Regions from separate parts of the Homo sapiens genome. Here region 1 is linked to region 2. Evidence: fine-mapped expression QTL. A gene starts in region 2. The other region holds a variant in brackets. All regions are shown on one strand. Distances are between the middles of the regions.

The links. PIP is the estimated chance that this variant, and not a neighbour inherited with it, causes the effect. A credible set is the group of variants that fine-mapping cannot tell apart.
Region 1: its variant is the best candidate, but not a certain one, in a credible set for the expression of SCNN1D in esophagus muscle (GTEx, PIP 0.82).

Annotation. Positions count from the first base shown.
Region 1 is chr1:1,363,298-1,368,679 of GRCh38, reverse strand. It overlaps a transcript of MXRA8 not described here. Among named protein-coding and RNA genes, the nearest start is that of MXRA8, 7.4 kb to the right of the region's middle. The variant ACTCATTCAATCACACT/T (reference allele first, on the strand shown) is at 2,237.
Region 2 is chr1:1,277,553-1,282,901 of GRCh38, reverse strand. SCNN1D (sodium channel epithelial 1 subunit delta) reads right to left here and starts at 2,466. Exons shown (of 18, transcript NM_001130413.4): 1 at 2,236-2,466; 2 at 1,605-1,676; 3 at 1,292-1,491; 4 at 587-660. The coding sequence starts at 2,240. It overlaps LINC01786 (long intergenic non-protein coding RNA 1786), which reads right to left. Exons shown (of 3, transcript NR_185846.1): 3 at 2,295-3,834.

The sequences.
Region 1 (5,382 bases), 86 kb before region 2:
TCACTGCAGCCTGTAACTCCTGGGCTCAAGCCAGCCTCCCAAGTAGCTGGGGCTACAGGCATACACCACCAGGCCCAGCTAATGTTTTTTTCCAGCAGAGATGGAGTCTCACTAAGTTGCCCAGCCTGGTCTCAAACTCCTGGCCTCAAATGATCCTCCTGCCTTGGCCTCCCAAAGTGTTGGGATTATAGGTGTGAGATACCACACCCAGCCTACTTTCAGACTTTTTTGATCAAGATACAAAATAAGAAATATCTTTTTACACCGCTATCTGATGAACACACCCACCATTGAAAGTTGTACAGAATAGTATCTCTCATAAGTACAATAAACTGAGATATTGCCTATTCTAGTCTTGCTGCACCTTCCTGCCTGTAATCCCGCACTTCAGGAGGCTGAAACAGGTGCATTACTTGAGCCTGGTAGGTCAAAGCCAGCCTAGGCAATGGAGCAAGACCCCATCTCTACAAAAAAAAAAAAAAAAAAAAAAAAAAAAAAAAAGCCAGGTGTGGTTGTGCCCACCTATGGTCCCAGCTACTCAGAAGGCTGAGGTAGGAGGATCACTTGAGCCTGGGAGGTTGACCTGCAGTGAGCCAAGATCGCACCACTGCACTCCAGCCTGGGCAACAGAGTGAGACTGTCTCAAAAATAAAAATGAAAAAGACCGGGCGTGGTGGCTCACGCCGGTAATCCTAGTACTTTGGGGCACAGAGGTGGGCGGATCATGAGGTCAGGAGATCGAGACCATCCTGCCTAACACGGTGAAACCCCATCTCTACCAAAAATACAAAAAATTAGCCAGGCGTGGTCGCAGGCGCCTGTAGTCCCAGCTACTCGGGAGGCTGAGGCAGGAGAATGGTGTGAACCCAGGAGGCGGAGCTTGCAGTGAGCCGAGATGGTGCCACTGCACTCCAGCCTGGGGGACAGAGTGAGACCCCGTCTCAAAAAATAAATAAAAAATAAGTTGCTCCTGATCCACTGAACTGAATTTACACTAATTCACACTCACCAGTTCACATTCACCAATTCATACGTGCCAATCCACACCCATCCACACTCATTCATACACTCACTCAACAATTCACACCTATCGACATTCACCAATTCACACTCATCCACACTACACACACCAGTTCAACTCACCAATTCACTCACCAATCCACACTCATTCACACTCGCCAATCCACACTCATTCATACACCAAGTCACACTCATCCACGCTCTAACAGTCACCAATTCACACTCATCCACTCATTCACACTACACACAATTCAACTCACCAATTCACTCAATTCACACATCCACAACCAATTCACACTCATCCACACAGTCACCAATTCACTCATCCACTCATTCGCACTACACACACCAATCCACACATTCACACTCACCAATTCACACATTCACTCTCACCAATTCACACATCCACACTCAACAGTCACCAATTCACACTCATCCACACATCCACACTCATCCACACTACACACACCAATTCAACTCACCAGTTCACTCACCAATCCACATTCACACACTCACCAATTCACACTCATCCACACTCGCCAATTCACACTCATCCACACTACACACACCAATTCAACTCACCAATTCACTCACCAATCCACACATTCACACTCACCAATTCACACATCCATACTCGCCAATTCACATTCATCCACACTCATCCACTACACACACCAATTCAACTCACCAATTCACTCACCAATCCACTCATTCACACAATTCAATTCACACCAACTCACCAATTCACTCACCAATTCACACTCACCAATTCACACCAACTCACCAATTCACACTCACCAATCCATTCAGACACCAATTCACACCCACGCTTTAACACAGTCACCAATTAACACTCATCCACACTACTTCACACCAATTCACTCAGTCACCTGTTTACTCTCATCCACACGCTTATTCACACTACACACACCAATTTACACTCACCAATTTAATTCACCCATCCACACATTCACACTCACCAATTAACACCCATCCACACTCATCCACACTTCACACCAATTCACTAATTCCCACTCATTTACACTCATTTCACACTCGTTCTCACACTAATTCATATTCCTTCACACCCATCCACACTCACCCACATTCACACTCACCAATCCTCACTAATCAATTCACTCACTCACCCTTTCACACCCATCCACACTAATCCACTCATTCACACATTCACACTCGCCCATTCACCCTAATTCAC[ACTCATTCAATCACACT/T]CATTCACATTTATTCACATTCACAGTCACCAATCCAGTCATTCACCCATTCACACCAATCCACTCATTCACACCCATTCACACATTCACACACCCATTTACACACACCAATCCACATTCGTTCACACTCATTCACGCACACCAATCCATTCACACTCATTTACATTCACACTCGCCCATTCACACATTCACACTCGCCCATTCACACTCATCAGTTCACACTCATCCACTCATTCATTCTCTCACCCATTCACATCCATCCACTCATCCACACCACTTCACACTCACCAATTCACTAATTTACACACCCGTTTACACTCATCCACACCACACAATTCACACCAATTCACAAATGCACAATCACCAGTTCACACCCATCCACACTCATTCACACACAGTCTCACGAATTCACACCCATCTGCACTACTTCACACTCACCAATTCACTAATTCACACTCAATTTATAGTCATCCTTTCACAATCATTCTCACGCTCATACTCGTCCTCCCCTCCCAGGCTCAGGCCATCCTGTCACAGCCTTTCCTAGCTGGGATCACAAGTGTGCACCACTACACCTGGCCTAATTTTTATTTTTATTTATTTTTTTTGAGACAAAGTCTTGCTTTGTCACCCAGGCTGGAGTGCAATGGTGCAATCTCAGCTCACTGCAACCTCTGCCTCCTGGGTTCAGGCGATTCTCCTGCCTCAGCCTCCAGAGTAGCTGGGACTTCAGGCGTGCACCATCATGCCCAGCTAATTTTTTTATTTTTATTTTTATTTATTTATTTATTTTTGAGAGGGAGTTTTGCTCTTGTTGCCCAGGCTGAATACAATGGCACGATCTCAGCTCATCGCAACCTCCGCCCCCTGGGTTCAAGTGATTCTCCTGCCTCAGCCTCCAGAGTAGCTGGGAGTTCAGGTGCCCACCACCATGCCCGGCTAATTTTGTATTTTTAGTAGAGCTGGGGTTTCTCCATGTTGGTCAGGCTGGTCTTGAACTCCCGACCTCAGGTCATCTGCCCACCTCAGCCTCCCAAAGTGGTAGGATTACAGGCATGAGCCACCATGCCCAGCCTTATTTTTGTTTTTTATTTTGTTTTTGAGACAGAGTTTCACTCTTGTTCCCCAGGCTGGAGTGCAATGCTGCAATCTTGGCTCACCTCAACCTCCATCTCCCAGGTTCAAGCGATTCTCCTGCCTCAGCCTCCCGAGTAGCTGGGATTACAGGCGTGCACCACCATACCCGGCTAATTTTTGTATTTTTAGATGGGATTTCTCCATGTTGGCCAGGCTGGTCTTGAACTCTCGACCTCAGGTAATCCGCCCCCACTCAGTGTCCCAAAGTGCTGGGATTACAGGGGTGAGCCACCACGCCTGGCTTTTTTTTTTTTAATATAGAGTCTCACTCTGTCACCCAGGCTAGAGTGCAGTGGTGTGATCTTGGCTCACTGCAACCTCTGCCTCCTAGGTTCAAGAGATTATCCTGCCTCAGTCTCTTGAATAGGTGGGATTACAGGCATATGCCACCATCCCCAGCTAATTTTTGTATTTTTAGTAGAGATGGGGGTTTCACCATGTTGGCCAGACTGGTCTCGAACTCCTGACCTCAGGTGATTTGCCTGCCTTGGCCTCCCAAAATGCTGGGATTATAGGGGTGAGCCTGGCCTTATTTTTTTATTTTTGACTGGGTCTTGCTATATTGTCCCGCCTGGTCTCCATAATCCTGGGCTTAAACCTCCTGCCTCCACCTCCCAAAGTGCTGGGATTATAGGAGTGAGCCACCGCACCCAGCCGATTTTTCTATCATAATTGCGTACATCAAATTTGTAATTATAACCAAGGTAGAAATGTTACATGTAACAGCCGACCTCCCTTGGTGAGGAGGGAGAAGCCACCACGGAGGATCCAGGATGTGCATTCCATGTGGCAGCCGTGGCCTGGCCCTCGCCTGAGGCTGGTGTGACAGCTGCCCTAAGACGTGCCCAGCCGGGAAGGGAGGCGGATGCAGAGTCCCAGAGGTGGAGTCTGACCCTGCAGGTGGAGCCACCGCAGGTAACTGGCAGCACTCAGTGTTCTTTGTTCCCGATTTTAAAATTGATCAGGCATGGTGTCTCACACCTCTAATCCCAGAACTTTGGGAGGCCGAGGTGGGTGGCTCACGAGGTCAGCAGTTCGAGACTAGCCTGGCCAACACATTGAAACCCCGTCTGTACTAAAAATACAAAAATTCGCCGGGCGTGGTGGCTCATGCCTGTAATCCCAGCACTTTGGGAGGCTGAGGCAGGTGGATCACAAGGTCAGGAGTTTGAGACCAGCCTGACCAACATGGTGAAACCCTGTCTCTACTAAAAATACAAAAATTAGCTGGGTGTGGTGGTGCACACCTGTAATCCCAGCTACTCCAGAGGCCGAGGCAGGAGAACTGCTTGAACCCGGGAGGCGGAGGTTGCAGTGAGTCGAGATTGCGCCACTGCACTCCAGCCTGGGCGACAGAACGAGACTTCATCTCAAAAAAAGAGAAAAAAAGCCGGGTGCAGTGGCTCACGCTTGTAATCCCAGCACTTTGGGAGGCTGAGGCGGGTGGATCATGAGGTCAGGAGATCAAGACCGTCGTGGCTAACACGGCGAAACCCCGTCTCTACTAAAAAAAATACAAAAAATTAGCCAGATGTGGTGGCGGGCGCCTGTAGTCCCAGCTACTCGGGAGGCTGAGGCAGGAGAATGGCATGAACCCAGAAGGTGGAGCTTGCAGTGAGCAGAGATTGCGCCACTGCTCTCCAGCCTGGGCAACAGATCGAGACTCCATCTCAAAAAAAAAAAAAAAAATTAGCCAGGCGTGGTGGCGGGCACCTGTAATCCCAGCTACTCGGGAGGCTGAGGCAGGAGAATAGCTTGAAACTGGAAGGCAGAGGTTGCGGTGATTCTGAGATTGCACCACTGCTCTCCATCCTGAGCAAAAGAACAAAACTCTGTCTCAAAAAAAAAAAAAGAAAAAACTGATGGATCTCGCCTGTAATCCCATTGCTTTGAGAGGCCGAGGATCGCTTGAGGCCAGGAATTTGAGGCTGCAGTGGGCCAAGATGTTTGCACCACTGCCCTTCAGCCTGGGTGACACAGTGAGACCCTGTCC
Region 2 (5,349 bases):
AGGCACCTGTAGTCCCAGCTACTGGGGAGGCTGAGGCAGGAGAATGGTGTGAACCCAGGAGGCGGAGCTTGCAGTGAGCCGAGATCGTGCCACTGCACTCCAGCCTGGGCGACAGAGCAAGACTCCGTCTCAAAAAAAAAAAAAAGAAAGTGATTCACAACACACTAAGACCCCACACATGCTAAGACCACACACGTATGCTAATACCTCACACACGCTACGACCTCACACACACTAAGACCACACACGCTAAGACCTCACACATGCTAAGACCACATGCTACTGTCAGGGTCCAAATCACAGTCTCCCAGGCTGGCGTCTTCAGCCCCAGTGCGGTTGTGTGGAAGGCAGGTGTCCCTGTCCCCCAGGACCACCCCATCCCTGTCTACTGTGGGACCCTAGATATCCAGGTGGCCTCACTGTCCCAAATGACCAGACCCGAGCCGGGCCCAGGTTGGAAGGGTAGGCTCTGTGTTCCTGACATCCTGCCCCAAGTGGTGCTGGGTCCCTGGGCTTGGCTGGGGGAGCCCAGCCCCACAGGGTCCAGCAGCAGAGCCATGGCTCTGAGGAGGGTGAGGTCACCTGCCTGCCGGCTCTGGAAGGAAGCAGCTGCCACCGGTGACGTCCTGGAGAGGAAAGCCATGCTGGAGTCACCCAGGCCTGTGTGAATCACAGCTTCGTCACTGGCTGTGTGGCCTTCCCGAGTTACTCAACCTCTCTGAGCTGATTTCCTTGAGTGCCAGATGGGGCTGGGGTGCCTCTCCAAGCTCGCGGCAGGGGGCTTGCTGATGTCACAGAGACCCCACAGGTCAGCGGCAGGGCCCCCGGACACAGCACAGGCCTGGGGCTTCTCCCCCACCACATCTGGGCAGCTTTGTGCGTGGGCCGCACCTGCCGAGGAGACAGGGCACACATGGCCCGGGCGGCTACTTGGCAGGCGGGGACAAGGTCCTAGGTGCTTGCCAGAGATTGTGGCTGGAAGCAGCCTGTGCCTCCCTGTGTCCCCGGGAGTGGCCTGGCAGACAGCCCAGCCTTGGTGCAGGGTGCAGAGAGAGAAAGAGCCCAGGTCCGGCCAGTGGGGCCCGGTCCAGCCAAAGGGCAGCTTGCAGGAGCAAGGCCCCCGGCTTCCTGTAGGAGGGGGAGCCCTGGCCGGGGGCAGAGCACCCCTTCCATGACCCGTATGCCCTGCAGGGCCTCAGTCAGAGCACATCTCGGCTGGATCACGCAGCTCCCGGCTCCACCCCCCTCCCCTCCTCCCGGGCAAGGCCTCTAAGGGCTGAGGTTCAGTCACCTGTCCCACACCCCTGTATCGGGCCAGAGAGTAGGCAGAGGGGGTAGCCACAGAGCACATGTCCAGCACTGGTGAATCCACATGGTCCTCCCCCTCTTCTGGGCCATCCCCTCGCTGGCCCGGTGCAGGGGGTGGGGTGGGGCGAACCCAGCTCCCGGCATGTGGGGGTCCTGTGGTCACTGCACCATGACCAGGTGAGCCTGAATGAGAGAAGGGACGGGCAGGCATCCCTGGCTCCCTTTGGGCCCATGCCTCTGCTCTCTCCCAGGAAAGACGGCCAGGCCCCATTGACCGAGCATGGCTGTGAGCTCACCTCCTTGGGCCGCTGAGGTGGCCGGGCCACAGGTAACGAGGGAGCGGTGTTGTCTTCTGTGACAGCACTGCCCTGGAGATGGCAGGCGCCTGGCATCTGTGGGACCCCAGCCAGGACCTCCTATCCCAGAGCCCCGTTTCCTCCCCTGGGGTGAGCGTCCCCCACTCAGGGTCACTCTGAGTCAGCCCTGGGACGGTTCTGGTGCAATAGACAGGCAGCCCAAGGTCGGGATTCCCGTGGGCATGGGCAGGCCAGGGGTGGCCTGGGGTCCCTCTGGGGTCCTGCACCCAGGCAGGTGAACAGCCTCCCAGGCAGAGCCCCCTCGGCCCCGGGCATCAACTGCACTGTCCAGTGGAGCCTCCGCAGAACAGGCACTAAGGTGGCACCAAGGTGCCCCCGGCTGCTGGCCTGGGTGGGTGCTGAGGGTGGGAGTGTGGAGCTTGGGGTCTGGCCGGTGTCCCCTGCTGGGAGGAGTAAGGTGCGTGTGGGCTGCCTTCTAGGTTCCCTCATAAACCAAAAATAAAATTATAAGCCCTGAACTGTCTGGATGGACCCCTGGTCTTAGCCATGGGCATTCCAAAGTTAACCTGAAAAACTAGCTCAGCTGTGATGGGAAGGGAGTCGGACGCACCTCATGCCTCCTCCCTGCTGGAATTCAGGCACAGCATCAGCATCACCTCAGGCCTTGAGTCTGATGAGAAGCATTTATAGTTGATTCTCTCTGAGGCTTGTGACCTGGTGGCTTCATCTGCGATAAGACCTTCATCTGCACAACGCCATACTGTAACCAGACATTCCCTTCTACTGATAACAACTCTTTTTTTTTTTTATTTATTGAGATGGAGTCTCGCTGTCGCCCAGGCTGGAGGGCAGTGGCGCGATCTCGGCTCACTGCAGGCTCCGCCCCCCGGGTTCACGCCATTCTCCTGCCTCAGCCTCCTGAGTACCTGGGACTACAGGCGCCCGCCACCACGTCTGGCTAATTTTCTGTATTTTTAGTAGAGACGGGGTTTCACCGTGTTAGCCAGGATGGTCTCGATCTCCTGACCTCGTGATCCGCCCACCTCGGCCTCCCAAAGTGCTGGGATTACAGGCATAAGCCACTGCGCCCAGCCTAATTTTTGTATATTTTTTTAGTAGAGATGGGGTTTCACCATATTGGCCAGGCTGGTCTTGATCTCTTGACCTGGTGATCCGCCTGCCTCGGCCTCCCAAAGTGCTGAGATTACGGGTGTGAACCACTGCGCCCGGCCACCTTTTTCTTAAGACAAGGAGAACGACTCCCTTTTGGGTACCCCATTTGGTTTCTAGCTCGGACGTGCGTTCCTAAGGGTCTTCTCTGTTGCTTTTTCTCCCAAAATTAAGCCCAACTGGCTTGTGCGTGCATTTGCATGAGGAACTGAATTGTTCTTTGCATAGATAAATGAGAGACTGAGTTTTCTCAGCTCCAGAAAGAAAGGCATTTTGCTCCTCCCAGCTGAAAGGCGCCCCTGGGTGACTGTGAGCCAAGTGGGAGTATCTCGTGGGCTGATCCCCCACGACGTGCAGCAGCCCCACAGGGAACCCCCCAACACAATTAGTTTAAAAAGGTTTGTCTGCTGGGTGCAGTGGCTCACGCCTGTAATCCCAGCACTTTGGGAGGCCGAGGCGGGTGGATCACGAGGTCAGGTGATCGAGACCATCCTGGCTAACACGGTGAAACCTCGTCTCTGCTAAAAACACAAAAAATTAGCCGGGCATTGTGGCGGGAGCCTGTAGTCCCAGCTACTTGGGAGGCTGAGGCGGGAGAATGGCGTGAACCCGGGAGGCAGAGCTTGCAGTGAGCCGAGATCGTGCCACTGCACTCCAGCCTGGGCGACAGAGCGAGACTCCGTCTCAAAAAAAAAAAAAAAAAAAAGGTTTGTCCAGGAAATGCACATAGGAGCTGGTCACTCTGTGTTTTGAGTCCTCTCGGAGGTGTTGGACTTCTAGAGAGAGAAACAGAGACACGTAAGAGGGCGAAGATGCCTCAGTGGTGACACACTGGGGAGTCCCGCCCACGACCCGTCCACGACCGGCACACTCAACCTGCTCCACGGAACCCCATTCCACAGCTCGGTTCCTCTGCGCCCCACCTGCTCCACGGAACCCCAGTTCCTCCATACTCAACCTGCTCCACGGAACCCCAGGCCACAGCTCAGTTCCTCCGCGCCCCACCTGCTCCATGGAACCCCAGGCCACAGCTCGGTTCCTTTCAAGAAAAAAAAAAGTGGGAAATAAATAATGTAAGCCTCAGCAAAGACAAGAGGGCGACCTCCTTCCAGGCACCCCGCTGGTTTCAGGCGCCTCTACCTGCAAGTGTTGGTATAAAACTGAACATGTCGCGGGCATGCTGGGTTTCCTAGTGCCCCAGCTGGTTCCATATTATGGTCTTTTGGGGCACATTTTAAACTGATGGGCAAATTCCATCCAGGAAAAATTCAGAGCCCAAAGGTCAGCCTGCAACTACAGAACCATAGAGTTCCTGGCCAGGCGCAGTGGCTCACGCCTGTAATCCCAGCACTTTTGGAGGCCAAGGCGGGCGGATCACCTGAGGTCAGGAGTTCGAGACCAGCCTGACCGACAGAGTGAAACCCCATCACTACTAAAAATACAAAAATGAGCCGAGCGTGGTGGCATGCACCTGTAATCCCAGCTACTTGGGAGGCTTAGGCAGGAGAATAGCTTGAATCTAGAAGGCGGAGGTTGCAGTGAGCTGAGATCGTGCCATTGCACCCCAGCCAGGGCTGCAAGAACAAAACTCTGTTTCAAAAAAAAAAAAAAAAAAGAACTATAGAGTTCCTAAGTTCTCTATCTCTCTGTTTCCTTTGCTGCCTGCCTTAAAGCTGCTGTTACACTTTTTGTTTTTTTTAGGTAGAGTCTCACTGTGTTGCCCAGGCTAGAGTGCAGGGGTGCGATCTCGGCGCACTGCAAACTCTGCCTCCTGGGTTCAAACGATTCTCCTGCCTCAGCCTTCCAAGTAGCCAGGATTACAGGTGTGCGCCACCACGCCTGGCTAGTTTTTGTAAATTTAGTAGAGACGTGGTTTCACCATGTTGGCCAGGCTGGTCTTGAACTCCTGGCCTGAGGCAATCCACTCACCTTGGCCTCCCAAAGTGCTGGGATTACAGTTGTGAGCCACCGTGCCTGACCAGCTGTTACTTTTCTACTGAGATGACATCCACAGTTTGCATCTAGATGTTTCTTTCTGTTATTGTTTTTCTAACTAGTGACTTTGTGTTGATATGTCATGGTTAGAGGTGTAAAGCAAAAGCTGTAGGGTTTTTGGATGAGTGTATATGTGTGTTTAGATGTGTTTATGTGTACGTGCGTGGATTCTGATACATGTTTTGTGGCCACAAGGTATCAAAGTGGCTTAAGGAGTATGCATACATTTAGTACATAATAACAAATTTCATGTGACTTAAGTAAAAAATTTTTTTTTTTTTGAGACGGAGTCTCGCTCTGTCCCCCAGGCTGGAGTGCGGTGGTGCGATCTGGGCTCACTGCAAGCTCTGCCTTCTGGGTTCAGGCCATTCTCCTGCCTCAGCCTCCCGAGTAGCTGGGACTACAGGCGCCCGCTACCACGCCCGGCTAATTTTTTGTATATTTTAGTAGAGACGGGGTTTCACCATGTTAGCCAGGACGGTCTCCATCTCCTGACCTCGTGATGTACCTGCCTCGGCCTCCCAAAGTGCTGGGATTACAGGCGTGAGCCACCGTGCCC